4 separate regions of the Homo sapiens genome follow, and all the other regions are linked to region 2. Evidence: fine-mapped expression QTL. A gene starts in region 2. Each other region holds a variant in brackets. All regions are shown on one strand. Distances are between the middles of the regions.

The links. PIP is the estimated chance that this variant, and not a neighbour inherited with it, causes the effect. A credible set is the group of variants that fine-mapping cannot tell apart.
Region 1: its variant is the best candidate, but not a certain one, in a credible set for the expression of MSL1 in monocytes (TOPMed, PIP 0.57).
Region 3: its variant is the best candidate, but not a certain one, in a credible set for the expression of MSL1 in neutrophils (BLUEPRINT, PIP 0.81).
Region 4: its variant is the best candidate, but not a certain one, in a credible set for the expression of MSL1 in whole blood (INTERVAL, PIP 0.51).

The regions. Positions count from the first base shown.
Region 1 is chr17:40,089,249-40,094,393 of GRCh38, reverse strand. THRA (thyroid hormone receptor alpha) reads right to left here. Exons shown (of 9, transcript NM_199334.5): 9 at 1,392-5,145. The coding sequence ends at 4,938. It overlaps NR1D1 (nuclear receptor subfamily 1 group D member 1), which reads left to right. Exons shown (of 8, transcript NM_021724.5): 7 at 272-482; 8 at 1,112-1,601. The coding sequence ends at 1,311. Among named protein-coding and RNA genes, the nearest start is that of NR1D1, 8.8 kb to the left of the region's middle. RefSeq lists enhancers at 2,552-3,178, 3,179-3,804. The variant G/A (reference allele first, on the strand shown) is at 2,293.
Region 2 is chr17:40,119,366-40,124,497 of GRCh38, reverse strand. It overlaps MSL1 (MSL complex subunit 1), which reads right to left and starts at 2,527. Exons shown (of 9, transcript NM_001365919.1): 1 at 1,118-2,527. The coding sequence starts at 1,885. LOC124904001 (a long non-coding RNA gene) reads left to right here and starts at 2,658. Exons shown (of 2, transcript XR_007065752.1): 1 at 2,658-2,714; 2 at 3,085-3,969. RefSeq lists an enhancer at 1,048-1,686 and silencers at 1,387-1,836, 1,887-1,936, 2,037-2,176, 2,237-2,446, 2,487-2,686 and 1 more.
Region 3 is chr17:41,089,152-41,094,296 of GRCh38, reverse strand. No RefSeq gene overlaps it. Among named protein-coding and RNA genes, the nearest start is that of KRTAP4-8, 6.4 kb to the left of the region's middle. The variant G/A (reference allele first, on the strand shown) is at 2,090.
Region 4 is chr17:40,194,159-40,199,303 of GRCh38, reverse strand. RAPGEFL1 (Rap guanine nucleotide exchange factor like 1) reads right to left here. Exons shown (of 15, transcript NM_016339.6): 15 at 3,654-5,145. Among named protein-coding and RNA genes, the nearest start is that of MIR6867, 3.1 kb to the right of the region's middle. RefSeq lists enhancers at 4,687-4,736, 4,361-4,861. The variant T/AAT (reference allele first, on the strand shown) is at 2,813.

The sequences.
Region 1 (5,145 bases), 30 kb after region 2:
CTGCTGCCCCCATTCTAGACAAGAGCAGATTAACTTTGGTGAATGCCTTGCCCAAGGTCACAGGTAGTGACAAAGCTGACACTCAGATTCAGGCTTATTGGATCCCAAAGCCATCCTTCCACCTGGGCTCCCTCATTGGCCATTCAGAAACAACCCCCACTCTACTGAGAAATCGAAGGCAGCACCGCTAAACCCTCTGGCAAACTACAGGGGCGATTTGGTCAGTGCTCCTCCCACCACACCCAGGATGACTGTTCCCCTTCCCTCCTAGGTGCTGATGGTGCGCTTTGCTTCGTTGTTCAACGTGAAGGACCAGACAGTGATGTTCCTAAGCCGCACCACCTACAGCCTGCAGGAGCTTGGTGCCATGGGCATGGGAGACCTGCTCAGTGCCATGTTCGACTTCAGCGAGAAGCTCAACTCCCTGGCGCTTACCGAGGAGGAGCTGGGCCTCTTCACCGCGGTGGTGCTTGTCTCTGCAGGTAGGTCAGGCTCTCGCCTGACCCGGGGGAGGAGGCAGACGCAGTTCAATTCAACACACCTTTTATGGAGTACCTACTCTATGCCAGGCCCTGCACCGGGCACTGGGGATACAGACATGATTCAGACACAGTCTAGCTTGGGAAACAGACTCATGCCCGACTAATTATAAAACAGTGAGATAAGTGTCACAGTAGAAGCATGAACCAAGGAAGCACAGACAACTATTTCTGCCTGGGGGAGCTGGGGAAGGAGGTGACACTTGAGTTGGGGCCTCAAAGGACAAGTAAGATGTTGCCAGGCAGAGAAAGGGGGAAGGGCATCCCAGGCAGAGGGAACTACACAGCAAAAAGCAAGGGAGTCTGGCCATGTTTGGCCTGCTGAGGAAGGGAAGGTGGTCTTACGGGATGGGAGGTGACCAGCCCTGCTGAGCCCACGCTCCCAGCTTTCAGGCACCTCCTGCTCTTGGGGCAGAGGCCTGGGAGAAGGTATGGCACTCCTTCTCCTTCCCCATCGGCCTTCTGGGGGGCTTCAGGGAGAGGCTGCATTGCCTGCCAGGTCCTCGCAGACCTCCGGTTCCTCCTCAGAGGAGCTCGGGGAGTCCGCCTCACTGCTGTCGTCTTCCCCACAGACCGCTCGGGCATGGAGAATTCCGCTTCGGTGGAGCAGCTCCAGGAGACGCTGCTGCGGGCTCTTCGGGCTCTGGTGCTGAAGAACCGGCCCTTGGAGACTTCCCGCTTCACCAAGCTGCTGCTCAAGCTGCCGGACCTGCGGACCCTGAACAACATGCATTCCGAGAAGCTGCTGTCCTTCCGGGTGGACGCCCAGTGACCCGCCCGGCCGGCCTTCTGCCGCTGCCCCCTTGTACAGAATCGAACTCTGCACTTCTCTCTCCTTTACGAGACGAAAAGGAAAAGCAAACCAGAATCTTATTTATATTGTTATAAAATATTCCAAGATGAGCCTCTGGCCCCCTGAGCCTTCTTGTAAATACCTGCCTCCCTCCCCCATCACCGAACTTCCCCTCCTCCCCTATTTAAACCACTCTGTCTCCCCCACAACCCTCCCCTGGCCCTCTGATTTGTTCTGTTCCTGTCTCAAATCCAATAGTTCACAGCTGAGCTGGCTTCTGTGGTGTGTGCTCGTTTGGGGGGTGGGGTGGAAATACTGCCAAGGCTGGGGGGGGCCACCTCTCCATCTGGTCAGTTTGTGGGGTGGGTACTCTGCCAGCAGATGGGAGGATATAGGGAAACAGCACACAAGTCTAAGGGGGGTGCCCAAGGGGGTTATTTTCATCATATATTTATTACATAAATATATAGTAAAATAGACGAGCAACAATTACCATAAAAATATCTTTCTTTAAAATCCTGACCCAAAACACAACGGGGTGAAAAATCGCACATAACAGACATACTGATTGTCAACGTGGGGCAGGAGTAGGAGCCCCTCAAGTCACCCCTGCCGGTCCCACCCCTCCCTGGGGAAGAGACCTACCTCCTTCCCTGTTTCTGGCCACAACCCCCCTCCCCCCAGCCCAGCACCAGCTTCTCATACATTCAGTAGCGCCTCTGGGCAGTGTCCCCCTCCCCCCCGCCCAGGAGTTCCCAGGGCAGGAGTTACTGTCCTCCTTATGGACGGTCTCTCTCTCACAACGCCCTGCCCTCTCCCAGCCCTGCAGACCCGCCACCAGGAGAAGGGGTAGGGGCTCCTCCCCCACCCTCCCCAAGTCTGAGCAGGGAGGAGGCTGGATGAGGTATGTGTGTTATGAGTGATGGGAGGGGCAATACTGAGATGGAGAGGCGGGTGGTG[G/A]GGGCGGGGTAGTGGTCATGGCTCTGGCAACCCCTTGTCCTGGCCTGGCCCCCTCGTCCTATTCCCAGCAACCCGTCCTCCCACCGATACTGCACCTGCTGCTCCACCCTGCCTGCCCTAGTGCCCCGGGCCAATACTGGGGGAGGCATGCTGAGCACCCACATCAAGGCCATCCCCCTCATTAGCACCAATGGCCCCCAGGAGAGGGCCCTGTCCCCCACTTCCACAGCAGGGACTGGGACAGCTGCCGCTCTAGAGCAGGTGCGTGGCACTCCTGAGTCGCCCTGGCTCCTCCCCTACCATGTGTACTCACTCACACATTCACGCAGAGGAACGCACACATACACCCCACATCACCGAGGGGGAAGGGAGGGGTCCGGGGAGGATGGGATCACAGCTCATATGATTGGGGAGGGTGGGGGAGTCCCAAGTGCCTATAAGAGGCTAAGGCTCTTCAAGGCCTTTTCTCTGCCGTGTCCATGGCTGAGAATGGGGATGGAGGGGTTGGGGTGGGGATGGAGGGATGGGGAAGACAGCAGACAGGTCAGGAATTCCACTGGGCCCCCAGGCGTGGTAGGAAGGTACAAGAGGGCCTACCCATGGGACTGGAGTAATACAGGATTCAGTACTCCAGGAGAGAGAGAGAGGATAGAGACAAAGACAGCGCGGGCAGCCCGAGGCCCCAGCAGGGTGGGACAGGCACATGCACAGGTGACAGCGGGTGCTCCTCCAGGCCCTCCACCCCTGTTGGAACACCTGAACGATTGGGGAAGGACAGTGCCCTGACGGGCAGCATAGCATTGCCTTCCCATGTCCGTGTGTGCATGTCCGTGTGTGTGTGTGTGTGTGTGTGTGTGTGTGTGTGTGTGTAGGGGGCTGTGGCAGGCTGAGGGTCAGGGTGGGGTGGCAGGTTCCCCACTGCTTAAGACATTTTTGCCCCAATAGTGCAAAGCGCAGGAAGCCCTGGCACCCCTCCCCCCACCCCCTGCCCCAATCCCCATGGCTTCCGGGGGCATCTGTGTCCACCCATCCATCCCTGCCGACATGCAGCCCTGAGCCCAGCACCCTCTGGTCTGCTCTGTCCCACCCCACCTCCTGCTCCCATGGGAGGACCACCTCCTCTCTCCCTCTCTCCCCTGAGGAGTGGGCGGCAGCCACAGGGAGGGGGAGGAGGACAGCTCACCCAAGTGCAGACCAACAGAGCACCCTCACCAGGAGGGCGAGAGGGGCTCAAGCCAAAGTCCCTGAATTAGAGAAAAGAAGAGGGGAAGGGGTCCCGGGGCAGAGGGGCAGCTGGCCAAAAGAGCTTTAAAGAAAAAGGAGCACCGACCACCCCTCCCCTGGGGCCCCAACTAAGTGTCACTTATCTAAACACCCCCATTCTGGTACCTGCCCGCCCAGAGTTAGTGCAGTGAGTAGGAGCTGGGGAGGAGGGCAGAGGTTAGAGAGAGCCCAGAAGACAGATGGGAAACAGGGAAACAGAGTGCTAAAGGGGTGGAGGGTTCTGGGAGACGCTCACGCACAGCCCTCCTACCCCCGACCCAACCAATGCAGCAGCATCCGGTTTCTAGCTAATACTGCAGGATATAAGGAGGGTAGGAGTTGGAGCCACAGTTTTTTCCTGGGTGGGTGCCAAGGTGTGGAAGGAGGAGGTGGATGGGGAGAGGCCCCTAGGGCTGGGCACTTAAAGGGGAGCTGTGTGGGCAGCAGGGCAGGCTGGTGAGGGGCCAGCTGGCATCCAGCATGAGAGGTAGATGGAACTCAGCGGGCACGAGTGGCAGAAAGCAGAGGACATACTAGGGTTGGGGGGTGCCAAAGGGGCACAGAGGGCGGGGTATGGCAAGGGGGGTGGCCAGGACCCTGTTGTGTTAACTCACAGCTCTGATCGGCAGCCCTACCCTTGGGGCTCTGGTGTGGGGGCATTTCTCTCTGATGTGGGGGAAGAAGGGGCAGCTCGCAAAGTGCATGGGGTGGTAAAGGGGGGGTCCTCCCCTCTGGTCAGCCTCAGTTAATAACTTAATATCATCTCTCTCTATCGCTCGCTCTCTCTTTTTTGTATTTTTCTCTCTGTCTAGTTTTTCTTCATTTGTCTTCTCCCCTTGCTTGGTTTCCAAAGTGCAGTTAGAATGACTATAAATTTTAACCTCCAGAGGAGGAGCCAAGCCAAGCCGTTCTTTGCACCCAGGCATCTGGGGAAGTAGAGAGGCCCTCAGCCTGGAGGGGAGACCTAGGCCAAGGAACTGGGTGGGGGCTCTCTCTCATGTGTGTGTAGGGGGTGAGTTGAGGGCATCTTCCCCCAGCCCACATTCCTCCTTCCCCTACGGTCAAGGTGGCTTGTCCCTTCTCAATCCTCCCGCCCTTCCCCTACCTTCTGAGAGGATGGGGTCCTGGGAACTGCAGGACACAGCTCCCCCAGCCTCCCACACTGTCCTTTCCATAGCAAGTTCAGTTGTTTGCCCTGTCCCAGGGCTGGAGGTCTGAGGAGGGACCTGGGCAGTGCGGGTGTGTGTGTGGGAGCTGAATCTATCCAAGGACGAGAGGAAGGAGAGAAGGGGTGTGGGGGGGTCTCCCTCAGCCCCCAGCTCTGCCCCTTCTCTCCAGGCTCCTCCCCACCAGCTCCGCACACCCTCTGGCCGCCTGAGGCTTTAGACTTCCTGATCCTCAAAGACCTCGAGGAAGAGTGGGGGGAAGAGTTCGGTGGGGCACTCGACTTTCATGTGGAGGAAGCGGCTGGCGTGGCAGGCCCCGATCATGCGGAGGTCAGTCACCTTCATCAGCAGCTTGGGCCAGAAGTGCGGAATGTTGTGTTTGCGGTGGTTGACGTAGTGCTCGAACGCCAGCAGGTACGCCTCC
Region 2 (5,132 bases):
TTTGGAAAGCAAACAAAATGAATAGCCGCTTGCTCCCTTGCTCAGCTCTTAGCGCACACGACGCCAGAGAGAAAGAGGAGAGAGGGAGAGATGAGGACGGCGGGGAGGGAGGGAGAGAGAGAGAGAGAGAAAGGGAAAGAGACAGGGAGGGAGGAAGAGGGAGGGAGAGAGGGAGAGAGAGACTGCTGCAGCCTGAACACAACAATTGTAGAAACCATGTTTATTTTTAGGCAGCTGTAAGGTATGCTAGCACAGTAATACCCCCCACCCCAGCTTCCCTCATATCTGAAGGAATATGTTTTAACGCAGAGATGCCCTTAACTACTGCTGCAGTAAAAACAAGCCTGTGTCGTCCAAGCTCCTCAGAAGTAAAGAAATAATAAACGACTTTCCTACTCCCTAAGATTCTAAAATAAGGATGGGGAGGTCTATTTAATACATTTAATAAGCTTACTTTCCCCTGATGCCCTAAAATCTTCCAGTTTCAAACACCATGCTTATAAAAGGGACCTGGTCAGTGGGTCATGTATTAGAACTCAGGTTCCTATTAAAAGCTGTCTGAAATCAAAGGCAGTGATTCTCTTAATATCATTTAAGAAAACTAAAATAGGATTCCACGTAAATCACCTCTACCCCTGTGCCCACTAAAAGGCCTACTGCCCTCCTATCTAAAGATGCTGCAGCAGTGGTGAAAGCAACAGCTGCTTGCTACAGCCCTCTCCTCCACCGTGCATTTCTAACGCAATAGCTCTTTAATTTAACCCTTCCATAAGGACACAACACCTACACCCCACCCTTTCATTTTTAACCCCTCACAGATCACGTCTTTTTCCACTAAACGTCTTTCCCACACGTCTGGGGCTGTCATTTTAAATTAACCCTTTGGCACCTGAAACCCCTCCCCCTCCCCCTGAGAGGTTGCCCTTTAACCCTTCCCTCCAACCCAACGTGTCTGTGAGCCTGGCTCCCAGAGACCCAGCGCCTAAGATACTCCTTTGCCGGTGGCCAACCTCCTTTACCCCTAACCCGGGGGTGCCTTAACCTCCTACAGCCCCCTTCCCCCGAGCATGCGCACAACTCGCTCCTCGGCCCGAATGCAGATTAACCCCTCCCGTACCGTGTCTCTCTCTGACTTCAGCTCCTCGATCTCCTTTTCCTTGGCCTGCAGCTGCTGCTGCTGCTGTTCGATGAGGTCCAATTGCAGCAGAAGGATCTGTTTGAGGCAGGCGGCCTGACTGGAGGCTCCCGAGCCGCCACCACCCCCGAGAGGGCTCTTCCTCATACTCTTCCATCTGCCCTCGCTGGCCGCCAGGGTCCCGGCGGTGGCGGTGGGCGCGAGGGGTGGCGGCCCGGGCAGAGGTAGTGGTGGGGGTCCCGCCGGGTCCGAGGCGGTGGCAGCGGGGGAGGCCGCCCCACCCTTGTCCCCAGCCCAGGGCGTAGGCTCTTTGGCCGCCGCCACGAGAGAGCCCGTCTGAATGGGCAGCACCGCCTGATACTTGGGCCGGGGGCTGCAGCCGGCTCCGGCTGCGGCAGGCTCCCCCCCAATGCCGGCTTGCTTGGTGGCCGGGGGCGGACAGGGCAAGGGCACCGAACCGCCCCAGCTCTCTTCCTGCTGCCCGGGGGCCGCCCCGGCCGGGAGTAACAAGCCCCGGCCCTTGCCGCCGCAGCCGGCCGGGGAAGGCGCGGGGCTCCCGCCCTGGGAGGAGGCCAGCGGGGGCCCCGGCTCCTTGAGCTTACGGTGCCGGGGGAGGAAGTGGGCTTCGGCCGCCCCAGGCTCGTCCTCGGGCCCGCCCAGCGCCGCAGCCCGCTCGTAGTCCAGTCGCTGCTCAGGATTGCCGCCGGCAGGGGCCGCGGCCGCCTTGAACACCGCGGATCTCATGGTCATAGTGGTCCGGAGCAGCGCCGGGCACCGAGGCGGAGGAGGGGGTGGGGAAGGGGCGAGGTGCGGGGGGTCGAGGACTGAGGGGGGGGAGGGGAGTTTGGCGGGCTCGCCTCAGCAGCGCGGCAGCAGGCCTCCGCTAGCGCGGCTCCTCCGGGGCCCGGGCGCCATCCCGCCGGCGTGCGGAGACGTGGAGGCCGCGGCTGAGGCCCGCCGCCGGCCCATGGGGGCCTCGCCGCCGCCTCTGCTGCCGCCGCCGCCGCCTTCGCCTCAGAGGCAGGAGCTCGCACCCAGCCGCCCCCGAGCTCATCCCCGGAGCTCGCTTCGGCCCCCCCTGGCCCGGCCGGGCCCGCCTCGTCTCCCCACCCCGCACCCCCCCTTCCCCGCCCCGGCCCCCCGCCCCGGAGCTCGCCTCAACCGCCCCGAGCCTCCATTTCCCCCCCCTCCTCCTCAGGAGGGGGTGGAGGGCTGGGTCCGCCCAAAGCCCTCCTACTCCGGGAGAGGGGGTCTGTCGCCTCTCCCGGGGGTCTCCGCGGCTCGGGGTCCCCCTCCCCCACAGTCACCCCCGGCGCCTCAGCGTTTCCCTTTAAAAAAACGGAGCCGCTCGTAGCCGCCACCGCCGCAGCCGCCGCCAACCGGAGGACGCATGCGCGGGGAGGGGAGCGGGCGGGAGTGCACCGGGAGCCGAGAGGAGGGAGGCGGGCCGCGCTATTGTGAAAGGGGCCGCCGCCGCCTCGAGGGGGGCAGGGAGGGGACCGCGGGGGCCGGGGGCCGGCGAGGGGAGGCCGGGGCTGAGGGGCGAGGACCGAGGAGCGCGCGGAGGAGCGGGGTGAAGGTGGGCTGCCGAGGGAGGGGCGAGCCGGGGGAGGGTCTGGAGGGGGAAGAAGGGCGAGGGCGGCCGCGGGAAGAAGGGGAAAGCGGAGGCTCCCCGGGAAAAAAGCGCGAGAGAATGGAGTTGAGAGGAAAGAAGGAGGATACAGGCGGCCAATGTGTGGCCTACGTGGGAGCGCCCCGAGCGCTCCACGTCCCCGGCCTGCGCCGGGCGGCCCCTTCCCCGGGCATCTTGGCAACGCGCCTGGCCCAAGCCGGAGGGGCCCCGCGGCCCCGCACGCCTCCTGGACCAGTCAGGATCCAGGCTCCTCTTTGAGCCCGCGGGTGTTTCATGGGGGTAGAAGTCTAACCCCTCCACCCCCTCTCCTCCCCAGCAGTCCCACGCGGGTATGGGAGAGAATGAAGTTCTTTGTCTCTAAGGGATTCAAACCAGAAACGGAGGGACCTCTGGTTCCCAGAGGGAGGAAAATCCATGATGTCTGCTGCCCAGGGAGCTATTGCCACCGCCTCCTTGGGATGAAGTATTGCCAGCTACCAACAGTTCCTTCCCAACGGCCATCTTCCAGCCTTCTTAAACGACTCCTAGCATCTTCGGGAGGCTCCTGAAGGACTGAAGCAAAGGAAATCTCTGAAGGGATTTAGTCCTTGAAAGGGAGTAGGGATACTTAGGGTGTTCTGTGTTGAGCGCTTCTTCCTATCTCTCCAGCTTCATGTATGTGTGTCTTTATGTCCAAGCAATTGAGCCAACAAGTCCTCAGAATTCCTTGTGAAAAAAACGTTTTTTTTTTTTGAGACGGATTCTCACTCTGTCGCCCAGGCTGGAGTGCAATGGTGAAATTCAGCTCACTGCAACCTCCGCCTCCGGGGTTCAAGCGATTCTCCTGCCTCAGCCTCCCGAGTAGCTGGGATTACAGTCACGCGCCACCACGCCCAGCTAATTTTGTATTTTTAGTAGAGACAGGATTTCTCCTTGGTCAGGCTGGTCTGGAACTCCCGACTTCAGGTGATCCGCCCGCCTCGGCCTCCCAAAGTGGTGGGATTACAGGTGTGAGCCACCGTGCCCAGCCCTGAAATAGTCTTAATTGCTTGTTTTTCTTTTTTGTCTGAGGTGTGCTTTTTAAAATCTCTATGGAGATGGAGAAGACTGACATTCTCTGGCCTGATGTGAAAACCTCTCATTAAAACTGTGTCTGTGCTTTGTGGGCTGAAAGCATGAAACACTGGAAATTTTAAACAAACGTATGTGAATGTGTTAAGAAGCCAAGAGTCCGGCCCTCTTTCACCAGACTGTATGGCCTCAGATCAGCAAGGGAAGTATTGAGCTTAGGGACACCAAGTAATGGAGTGAGCAGGGATGAGAGGGCACATAGAATGTGGTGATCTCTTTCCATGTCAAGGCTTGTGTGTTTGTGGCACTGGGGTCTTGCTGTGTCCCCAAGGCTAGAGTACAGTGGCACAATTATGGTTCACTGCAGCCTCAACCTCCAGGGCTCAAGTGATCCTCCCACCTCAGTCTCCTAAGTAGCTGGGACAACAGGCTTGGGCTGCCACACCTGGCTAACTTTTTATTTTTTTGTAGAGACGGGCCTTTGTAATACCAGCCTTTGTTGCCCAGGCTGGTATTGAACTCGCTCAAGCGATCCTCCCACCTGGGCGTCCCAAAGTGCTGGGATTATAGGAGTGAGCCACTGTGCCCAGCCTTCAGCGTCAAGACTTTCTGCACCATCTCTACGCTGACAGCTCCGTAATTTATATTTCTTTCTGGACTCATCCCCTAACTCCAGAATCATATATCCAACTGTCTAGTATACATACCCAGTTGGATGTCTAATAGGTATTTCTTTTTTTTGAGGTGGAGTCTTGCTCTGTTGCCCAGGCTGGAGTGCTGGAGTGCAGTGGCACGATCTCGGCTCACTGCGAGCTCCTCCCGGGTTCACGCCATTCTGCCTCAGCCTCCCCAGTAGCTGGGACTACAGGCGCCTGCCACTACGCCTGGCTAATTTTTTGTATTTTTTAGTAGAGACGTGGTTTCACTGTGTTAGTCAGGATGGTCTCATCTCCTGACCTCGTGATCTGCCCGCCTCGGCCTCCCAGAGTGCTGGGATTACAGGTGTGAACCACCGCGCCCGGCCTAGGTATTTCAAACTTACATCTAAAAATCAAGCTCCCGAATTCCTCCCACCCAAACACCCAAATACCACTTCTACAGTCTTACTCTTTTTTTTTTTTTTTTTTGAGACGGAGTCTTGCTCTGTTGCCCAGGCTGGAGTGCAGTGGCACAATCTCAGCCCACTGCAACCTCTCCACCTCCCGGGTTCAAGCGATTCTCCTGCCTCAGCCTCCAGAGTAGCTGGGATTACAGGCATGCACCACCATGCCCAGCTAATTTTTGTATTTTTAGTAGAGACGGGGTTTCACCATG
Region 3 (5,145 bases), 970 kb before region 2:
ATCTAGGTGGAGGTGCCTGCAACTCCCATAGCCCCAGAAGTCATGTTACAGTGCTCTTTTAACTCTGCCTTCCATGGATGGCTTAAGTGTCAACAGCTCAGTGAGCCCTCTGCCTTTTTGCATGAGGCAGCTGCCCTCCAACAGCAAGAGCAGAAGGCCAGTGTGACAGCCTTTTGTATCTGCTCTCCTGGCTCCCAAGCTCTTGTCGGGTGTCCAGGAAAGGTGAGGTCACATGAACCAATCAAAGGATGGTAAATGTGGGGGATTTTGTTGCTGATGAAAGTGGCTCTTAGCAGGAAGGGAGCTGAAAAAGGATGGGGTGGGTAGGTAATCTTCCTCAAAGTTAGGCTGTATCCAGCCGGATTCTTCTCCAAGGTTACACCATCAAGCTGTCCCTCTGCAGTCAAGCTGCTTCTCTCTGATGTCCGGCTGTAGTCCCCAACATCCAGCTGCTTCTTGCCTCTGCCAGCTCAGTCTGAGATCTTCACAGGCACAGGATGGGACAGGATGGGGCCATGAGTGGTTTAGAAAAAGGCAACTTTCAAGCAGGAAAACAGGGATATAAGTTGTCACTTTGGGCCATGGTTTAAGGCTTTTCAGCTTGAAGGTGGGGTTTTGTCAGAGACCTATCCTTTTCTGCCTAGAATTTCTCTGTCCCCTGGCCCTATCAGAACTTTGTTCCATAGAAGGAATTTCGGATAAGACTTTTGGAAAGCTTAGCCTAGCCATGGATTTGTACCATCAAATACCTATGAGTTGGGTGAATTCCTCTCCTCTTGAGGTTCCAAGATAAACTTGGGGCTCCTGGAACTGTTAGAAAGTGACATGCTTTACTTACCACAGGTCAGGAACCCTGTACAGGGACTGTGTAGATAAGGTATGAGGCCAGTTCTCCCAAGGGGCTTTTATTGGCTCCATAAGTCAAGTTTGATTCCTCAAAGAAGAGCACACCATTCAAGTAAAAGCCTTGGTAAAATGACCAATTTATCGTGTCCTGTTACAAATGAAAACAGATTCTTATTGCACTTACGCAAATAACTGTATTGCCATAAGTTAAGAATACTCACAGATAGTTTCCAATTCTAGGGAAAATCAGGTAGAGAGAAACAAATATGCTCCAAATATTTTTCACAGGAGTATACTAACTTGTTAAAAGCTGACAACAGCTCAAAAGAAAAGTTTCCTTGACTGAAAAAAACAAAATAAAGGGTCAGCAATGTTTTAAGCAAAAAGTCAAAAAGATTACTTCAGTCTTCTGTTAGTTCAGTTCATGCAGTTAATTCCTGTTCTGCTTGCTATTCATGAACATTTCAGGTCTCCATGAGTCCTGAAAGCTTTTCCTTCATTGTGATGTCACAATCTCCAGAGTTATTAGAAACCTGCATTCAAGAATACCTGTTAGAGTTTTATAGCTGATTATAAAACCATCTTCTAAAGAGGACTAAAACAAGACAAAAATTGTCCATGGGTGACAAAAAGTTTTAGGTCAGCCATAGGCGAAGATACAATTGACAAGAAAATTTGTTACCACCATGGCACACAATAATTTAATATAACAATCATAATTATTACTGATAATGTACACCAGGTCATATCAGAATTATAGGAGTTTCCCATAATTTTGGTGCACATACCAATAACAATTTTATACAAATACAGCCCAAATAAAACCAAACACCATTTTATATTTGACAATGCTTCCTGTATAATTTTTATACCAAATAAGTCAAATTATTTCATTTTTGGACTTGAGGGAAACTAATATCTTAAAGGATTAATTAGGTCAGAAAAATACACAACTTGTAATTTGATTTTGGAAAGTTTGTCAAATATCAAAGGTTTAAAACACTTGATATGACAGGTCATCATAAAATAAGTCAATTTTTCAAACAATAAGCCCAAATAAAACAGCATAAAGCCAATTAAATTTGTTTTTCAAAATTTTTTAAACAATCTATAACATTTTAATCTTGACCATAAGATACAACTTTCATAAGCCTTTTATAACCTTTATAACCTTTATTAAGGGGTCAGTTAACACTTCAAGAAAACCTTGTTAATCTGACACAGGGGCCCATATGCTGGTATT[G/A]CATCAGTGTGCCTTTGACATCAATTATTAACTTGTATAGAGACTGAACTTATTTTATCTCTCAAAATCAGCCCTTATAATCTCACATGCCTACCTCTTCTGTGATTGTTCCTGAGTCTTGAAGAGTTGAATAGCTTTGATTTATGGCCTTATGTCTCAGAAATGCAGCTTATTTTGATAGGCATCTTCTACCAGGCCTGAAGATGAGGTTTTAATTGCTGTCAGTGTTTAAGATTTAGCAGATCTTGGTCTCCTTTTTAGATCCAGGAGTTAAAGGCCGGTAACTCAATGTCACAGGTACTTTCAAAGTGCACACAGAAATATACATGGATGTAATAACGTTAATTTTTTAAAAAAATTGTCTCAGTTTCTTTTTCCTAAGCAAACCAAAAATTAATAATAATGGCATAGGAATTGTTTCAATAAGCCATAAAATCTGTTAGGTCAATTACCAAAAGGCAAAAGAAAAGACCTTCTACACTGCACAGAGTATTACTTTGGAAGAAAACATTTCCTTTAGACTTTTAGAAAACATTGTTAGCATCAGGCCACAACAAACAGAACTTAAGGAAAATAACTTATATGAGCTGAAAACAAGTTGAAGGGGAGAGAAAACAGCAAGTAAATAGTTGAACTTTGGGTTAAAAAATTAAAATCTCTTATAATTTATTAAGAGTAAATCAATCCCTTAAGAAAATTTCATCGCTGTAACTAATTATTTAGTCTATAAGTGTTTTTTTTAGCATGAAGCCCAATCTTCAGGAAGACCATTATAATTTCCCTTTAATTATAGACAACTCAATCATATAAAAGTTTTTTGGTATTTTTTTAAAATAAATCCTCTTATGACTTATAGAGACTGTTCATGATATGCTTGGACTATCTAGTTTGTTTTGAACATCCATCTTTCTTAAACAATCAGTCATTTTATTTTAGGTCTAAATTTACCATACAAGATTCTTTCTCATATGAAATTATTTCTCTTTAAGCTTTCTTACCAGCACAGGCTGAACAGACTTTGAGAGGAAAATAGTTTATAGTTTACCTTTGAAACAAAGATTATAATATTTCATTCCCAAAGTAAATATTACTGCCTGTGGACTAGACCACTAAAAGCCACAAGATTAGAAGTTATGGTAATCTGACTAAATTCAAGATGTGGCTATTTTTATTAAACCAGTATCAATGTCTTATTTATTAAAGATTACACAAGCAAAGATCATTCTATCACAGTTTTGTAACCCCATGCCAAATTTTGACACCTTATAGTATTTGACAGGGATAAACATGAAATTGCTTGATTAATAAATGCAAACAAAATGCATGCTGGCAATTCTTAAGACATGTCTAATATTACTTTACCAATCATTTTAAAAGTAGCTTATTTATTAAAGATTTTACTTAAGTTACATAAACTTGAGAAAGCATTCAACTAGTCTTTTCTTTTTTCCTAATAAGTATTTGATTTAAGTGCTTTTTTTCTTAAGCCAATTAATTAGAGCCCTTTTATATATTTTCAGTAGTGAGACATTGTGTACACAACACATAAATACATAGACCTAGTAGGCATGTTGATAGAAGTACATCTTATAGATTCATAAGAAGATTTTTCCACTATCTTAGACTTTCAAATTCTCAATAACCTGTTTTAATCCCCTAGGAAGTTGTCAGCTAAATGGCTTTAAGTTTGCATATTAAAGGAAACAACTCAGGCAAAAATCAAAGAGCAAAATTTATGTCTTAAGGTACAGAGAGAAAAAGTCTGGTGGTGCTAGAGGGAAATTAAAATGGACTTCATTGCCAAATAAACATAAAATTATAAAAATTATAAAGGCCTTTTAAATACACACACACACACACACACACACACACACACACACACATCCTATAGCTTTTACTTCAGAACTTTAGCCATGAGACAAATACAAATTCACCAGCTTGCAAGCAAAAAAACTGTTGTATCCAAACAGTGGTTTTGATCTTAATAGAAAAATAACAGCAGATTTAAAGCAGGCAGAAAAGAAAATAGAGAAAAAAGAGAACTTAGGAACTCTGTAGTTTGTAGGTCCACCTTAAGGCTCTTCTTTTCTTTCTTTCTTTCTTTCTTTCTTTCTTTCTTTCTTTCTTTCTTTCTTTCTTTCTTGCTTGCTTGCTTTCTTTCTTTCTCTTTCTTGCTTTCTTGCTTTCTTTCCTTCTTTTCTTTCTCTTCTAAAAAAAAATGAAATATACATGCAGGAGAACGTGCAGGTTTGTTACATAGGTATATGTGTGCCTTGGTGGTTTGCTGCACCTATTGACCCATCCTCTAAGTTCCCTCCTCTCATTCCCCACCCCCCAACAGCCCCTGATATGTGTTGCTCTCCTCTCTGTGTCCATGTGTTCTCAAAGTTCAACTCCCATATGTGAGTGAGAACATGTTGTATTTGGTATTCTGTTTCTGTGTTAGTTTGCTGAGGATGATGGTTTCCAGCTTCATCCATGTCCCTACAAAGGACATGAACTCACTCCGTTTTATGGCTGCATCGTATTCCATGGTGTATATGTACCACATTTTCTTTATCAAGTCTATAATTGATGGGCGTTTGGGTTAGTTCCATGTCTTTGCTCTTGTAAATAGTGCTGCAATAAACATACATGTGCCTGTGTCTTTACAGTAGAATGATTTGTATTCCTTTGGGTATATAACAAGTAATGGGATTGCTGGATCAAATGGTATTTCTGATTTTAGATCCTTGAGGAATCACCATACTGTCTTCCACAATGGTTGAACTAATTTACATGGGCCCTTTCTTTCTTAATGTAAATATGCACAAAGACCATATTACTTCCATTTTACTTAAACTCTGGCAAGTACAGGTGCCATAAAACCTATGGAGTGCTTGAAAGGGAATCATTCTCTTTGCTTTCTCCTCATTCTTAGATTATTTGTTTCCCAGTTTTCTTCTTAAAAAGAGGAACTGAGCTGAGGCCTAGAGGTTTTCTGTGGTGGATCAATATGTGCCATTTGTGGGCAGGACTCCACAGTGGGTCACCACTGAAAACAACAGTTCAGTTCC
Region 4 (5,145 bases), 75 kb before region 2:
GTTGGGATTACAGGCGTGAGCCACCCTGCCCAGCCTTTTTTTTTTTTTTGAGATGGAGTTTTGCTCTTGTTACCCAGGCTGGAGTGCAATGGCACGCTCTCAGCTCACCACAACCTCTGCCTCCCAGGTTCAAGCGATTCTCCTGCCTCAGCCTCCCGAGTAGCTGGGATTACAGGCATGTGCCACCACGCCCAGCTAATTTTGTATTTTTAGTGGAGACAGTTTCTCCATGCTGGTCAGCTGGTCTCAAACTTCCGACCTCAGGTGATCCACCCACCTCGGCCTCCCAAATGCTGGGATTACAGGCATGAGCCACCGCACCTGGCCTATTTTTTTATTTTTTTGTAGAGACAAGGTCTCCCTATGTTGCCTGAGCTGGTCTCAAACTCCTGGACTCAAGGGATTCTCCTGCCTCAACCTCCCAAAGTGCTGGGATTACAGGCGCGACACACCATGCCCAGCTACATTTTTTATTTTTTGTAGAGATAGGGGTCTCACTATGTTGGCCAGGCTGGTCTTGAACTCCTGGGCTTAAGAGATCCTCCTGTGTCCAGAACTGGTTCCTTCCAGTGGGTTCTTAGTCTTGCTGACTTCAAGAATGAAGCTTCAAGAATGATGCCACAGACCCTCACGGTGAGTGTTAGCTCTTAAAGATGGTGTGTCCGGAGTTTGTTCCTTCAGGTGTTCAGATGTGTCCAGTTTCTTCCTTCTGGTGGGTTCGTCCTCTCCCTGACTTCAGGAATGAAGCCACAGACCTTCAGCAGTGAGTGTTACAGCTCTTAAAGGTGGCGCTTCTGGAGTTGTTTGTTCCTCCCAGTGGGTTCGTAGTCTCGCTGGCTTCAAGAGTGAAGCTGCAGACCTTTGTGGTAAGTGCTACAGCTCATATAGTGCGGACCAAAAGAGTGAGCAGCAGCAAGATTTATTGCAAAGAGCAAAAGAACAAAGCTCCCACAGCGTGGAAGGGGACCCCAGTGGGTTGCCGCTACTGGCTCGGGTGGCCTGGCCCCACCCACATCCTGCTGATTGGTCCATTTTACAGAGCGCTGATTGGTCCATTTTACAGAATGCTGATTAGTCCGTTTTACAGAGTGCTGATTGGTTCGTTTTTACAGAGTGCTGATTGGTGCATTTACAAACCTTTAGCTAGACACAGAGCACTGATTGCTGCATTTACAAACCTTTAGCTAGACACAGAGCACTGATTGGTGCATTTACAAACCTTTAGCTAGACACACAGCGCTGATTGGTGCTTTTACAATCCTTTAGCTAGACAGAAAAGTTCTCCAAGTCCCCTACCTGATTAGCTAGACACAGAGCACTGATTGGTGCATTTACAATCCTTTAGCTAGACAGAAAACTTCTCCAAGTCCCCACCTGACCCAGAAGCCCAGCCAGCTTCACCTCTCACTCCTACTTCAGGCCCCCAAAGTGCTGGGATTAGAGGTGTGAGCCAACATACCCAGCCTGTGTCTGGCTTCCTTTATTCAACATTAAGTCTGTGAGATTCATTCACGTGGGTATTAATAATTTGTTCTTTTTTCTTGCTATATAGTATTCCACCATAAGAATATGCCCCAATGCATTTGTCCATTCATGTGTTGAAAGACACTGGGTTTTTTTCCTTCCTTCCTTCCTTCCTTCTTTCCTTCCTCCCTCCCTCTCTCCCTCCCTCTGTCCCTCCCTCCCTCCTTCCCTTGCTCTCCTTTCTTTTTTTTTTTTTTTTTAAACAGGGTCTCACTCTGTTGCTCAGGCTATAGTACAGTGGTGCTATCGCAGCTCACTGCAGCCTCGTTAATTTTTTATTTTTTGTAGAGACAGGGTCTCACTATGTTGCCCAAGCTGGTCTTGAACTCCTGGGCTCAAGCGATCCTCCTGCCTCAGCCTCCCGAAGTGCTAGGATTATGGGCTTGAGCCACCATGCCCAGCGTGATTGGTGTTTCTGAAAGAACACCCTGGCTGCCATGTGGAAATCAAACTGGTGGCAGGTAGGGGTGGATCAAAGAGAGGAAGCTGACAGACCAGGTAGGAGGCTGCAGTAGTCATGCAGGGAAGCTATGAAGGTGGTTTGGACTAGTATGGTCATAGGGGAGTCATACAGAAGTGGATCACTCAGAAAATGCTCTGGAATTGTAGCCGATGGGACTGGCTGAGATGAATGAAGGGTGGGAGAAAGAGGCACCAATGGTGAGTCCTGTATTTTTGCCTTGAAAACTTGGGTAGGTGGCTGGGCAGTGGCTCACAGCTGTAATCCCAGCACTTTGGAAGACTGAGGTGGGTGGATCACTTGAGGTCAGGAGTTTGAGACCAACCTGACCAACATGGTGAAACCCCATCTCTACTAAAAATACAAAAATTAGCCGGGTGTGGTGGCCTCTGCCTATAATCCCAGCTACTCAGGAGGCTGAGGCAGGAGGATCACTTGAACCTGGGAGGCAGAGGTTGCAGTGAGCCAAGATTACGCCACTGCACTCCAGCTTGGGCAACAGAGAGAGAAAACCTGGGTGGATGAGAGGATCATTTTTCTGAGATGCAGAAGACTGAGGCAGAAACAGATGTGAATGGGGATTATCAAGGGCCCAGGTATAGCTATTTGAGTGTATGATGTCTCCTGGAACTCAGGCTATCATTTAAGCCTAACGCTAGGCTCTCTGCACCCTATAATCTTAGTAGGATTGGGCCAGGCGCAGTGGCTCAAGCCTGTAATCCCAGCACTTTGGGAGGCCGAGGTGGGCAGATCACGAGGTCAGGAGATCCAGACCATCCTGGCTAACACAGTGAAACCTCATCTCTACTAAAAATATTAAAAAAAAAA[T/AAT]TAGCCCGGCATGGTGGTGGGCACCTGTAGTCCCAGCTACTTGGGAGGCTGAGGCAGGAGAATGGCATGAACCTGGGAGGCAGAGCTTGCAGTGAGCAGACATCACGCCACTGCACTCCAGCCTGGGCAACAGAGCAAGACTCCGTCTCAAAAAAAACAAAACAAAACAAAACTTAGTAGAACTGGTAAATATTGGTTGTGTGAACAGTACATGCTGTCTTCAGGGGACAGACCTGGGTTAGGGGACCAGTGCCCTCACTAGTAATTATTCTGGGACTGCTGTGCCTCAATCTTCTACCTTAGCATTAGAATTAAATGTGATCTCATATTTATGCCACCTGGAACATGTATGAACGAAAACATCCCATCCCCTCTTCTGAGTTCCAGGCATTATGTGACATGTCTTGTGAGGTTGGCATCTTTTCCTCTCATCCACATTTTCTTTTTTGGCAGAGTCTTGCTCTGTTGCCCAGGCTGGAGAGCCACTGCGCCTTGCAACCTCCGCCTCCTGAGTTCAAGCTACTCTCCTGACTCAGCCTCCCAAGTAGCTGGGATTACAGGCATGCACCACCACACCTGGCTAATTTTTGTATTTTTAGTAGAGACAGGGTTTCACCATGTTGGCCAGGCTGGTCTCGAACTCCCGCCCTCAGGTGATCTGCCCGCCTCGGCCTCCCAAAGTGCTGGGATTACAAGCATGAGCCACTGTACCCCGCCACCCACATTTTCAAAGTCACTCCAGAACAGCCCTGCTCCTGACAGCACTGGGCGGCCATCCCCTCTCCCCTCCCTCAGCACTTCCACAGCCTCAAAGAAAACAGAATGGAGAACAACAGGCAGGTTGATTCATAGACTTTATCGGCTTCTTCTCCACCCAGCGGTTTCTGCAATGACAACCGCGCCTGTACAATACACATGGTTCACTCTGTTAAAGCTGCAGGGCAACGGGAGGGGGCTGGGGGTCCCTGGGCAGGCATCAAGGCTAGGGGTAAGCAGCAGCCAAGACTGGGCCAGTGGGTCCCAGTGTCCGACCCAGAGGGTGGTGGCAGCTGGAGTTCCAAGGCTGTTGGAAGGGGTCAGGAGGAAGGCTGGGAAGCCAGGGGCTGCAGGGAGAGGAGAGTGCATCAGCAGTAGCAGGGAGGGGGCAGGGAGCAGAAGGGGGCCCATGGGACACTGTCAGGGCAAGAGGGCATGGGACACAGCACCTCCTATGTCCATAGAGGATTTTTGCTGCAGGAACAAGACAGATCACTGTATAAAAGGGTCTGTACAACATTACCTATGATACAATGTTCACATATGATACAAGGCTCTTTCCCTCTTTGAGTTTTAAAAAATAAATGTACAATTCCAGAGCTTTGGGTAAAAAATATATACACCCTCATAGCAGGAGCAGCAGCTGCTTTTGCTACGGCTGTTGCTGTCTCTTCAAAAGGGAAAGAGGTGGTGCCAGAAAGAAGGGTGAGTCTGTGCCAGGAAACCTCACCCAGTAGCTGCCAGGAGCCCCTGCACCCCTCAGGCCTTGAGGCTGGTGATGGGAGAGGGAGGGGAGTAAAGGTAATAAAGGCCTTGCCAGAGTCCAGTGGCGCCTTTACAGTCTCTGCCATCCCCCTCCCCCACTTTGGGGCTGCCTGCCCCAGGTATAGGGATCCACCCCACCCCAGCTCTATGGGGAGGACAAAGGGAGAGTCAAAGAGAGAGGGACAGAGACCATGTTGTTGGTGTCAGACACATGAGCCAGAAGGGGGATGTCAACTCCCTCCTTAGCAGTTAGATATCCCAAAAAGCAGGAGTGTGGGCAGCAGACAACCCTAGCTCCTGATACTGCTCTACCCGAGCCCACTGCAAGGCAGGGGGAGGGTCCTCTAGGCAGCTGAGGCCTGTGTTTCCCTGAGCATCTTTTACCCTCTCATCAGAGCCCATCCCTGGACCTTCCAGAGGCCTGAGTGGGGGACTTGCAAGGGCTGATGGGTAACCCCTCCCACCTGCTGCTACTCCCTGCCCCAAAAAGCAGCTTGGCTCACAAGCCTGGGCATGCAGGGCAGCACGAGGAGCTGAGCAGGGAGTGTGGGGGTGGAGAAAGCACCCCGCACCATCCAGGGGCAGAGTAGACAAGGGTAGCACCAAACAGAAGGACCCCTCCCCAGCACACACAACATCCACCCTCAATTACCAGATGCACTCCTGCTCCCTAAAAGAAGACACACACACACACACACACACACACACACACACACACACACACACACACACACACACGGCAACATAATATTCCTGGGGGTCCCAGCCCTGACCAGGAAGAAGCTGGACAGGTGGTGGAGAAGAAGGCTGCC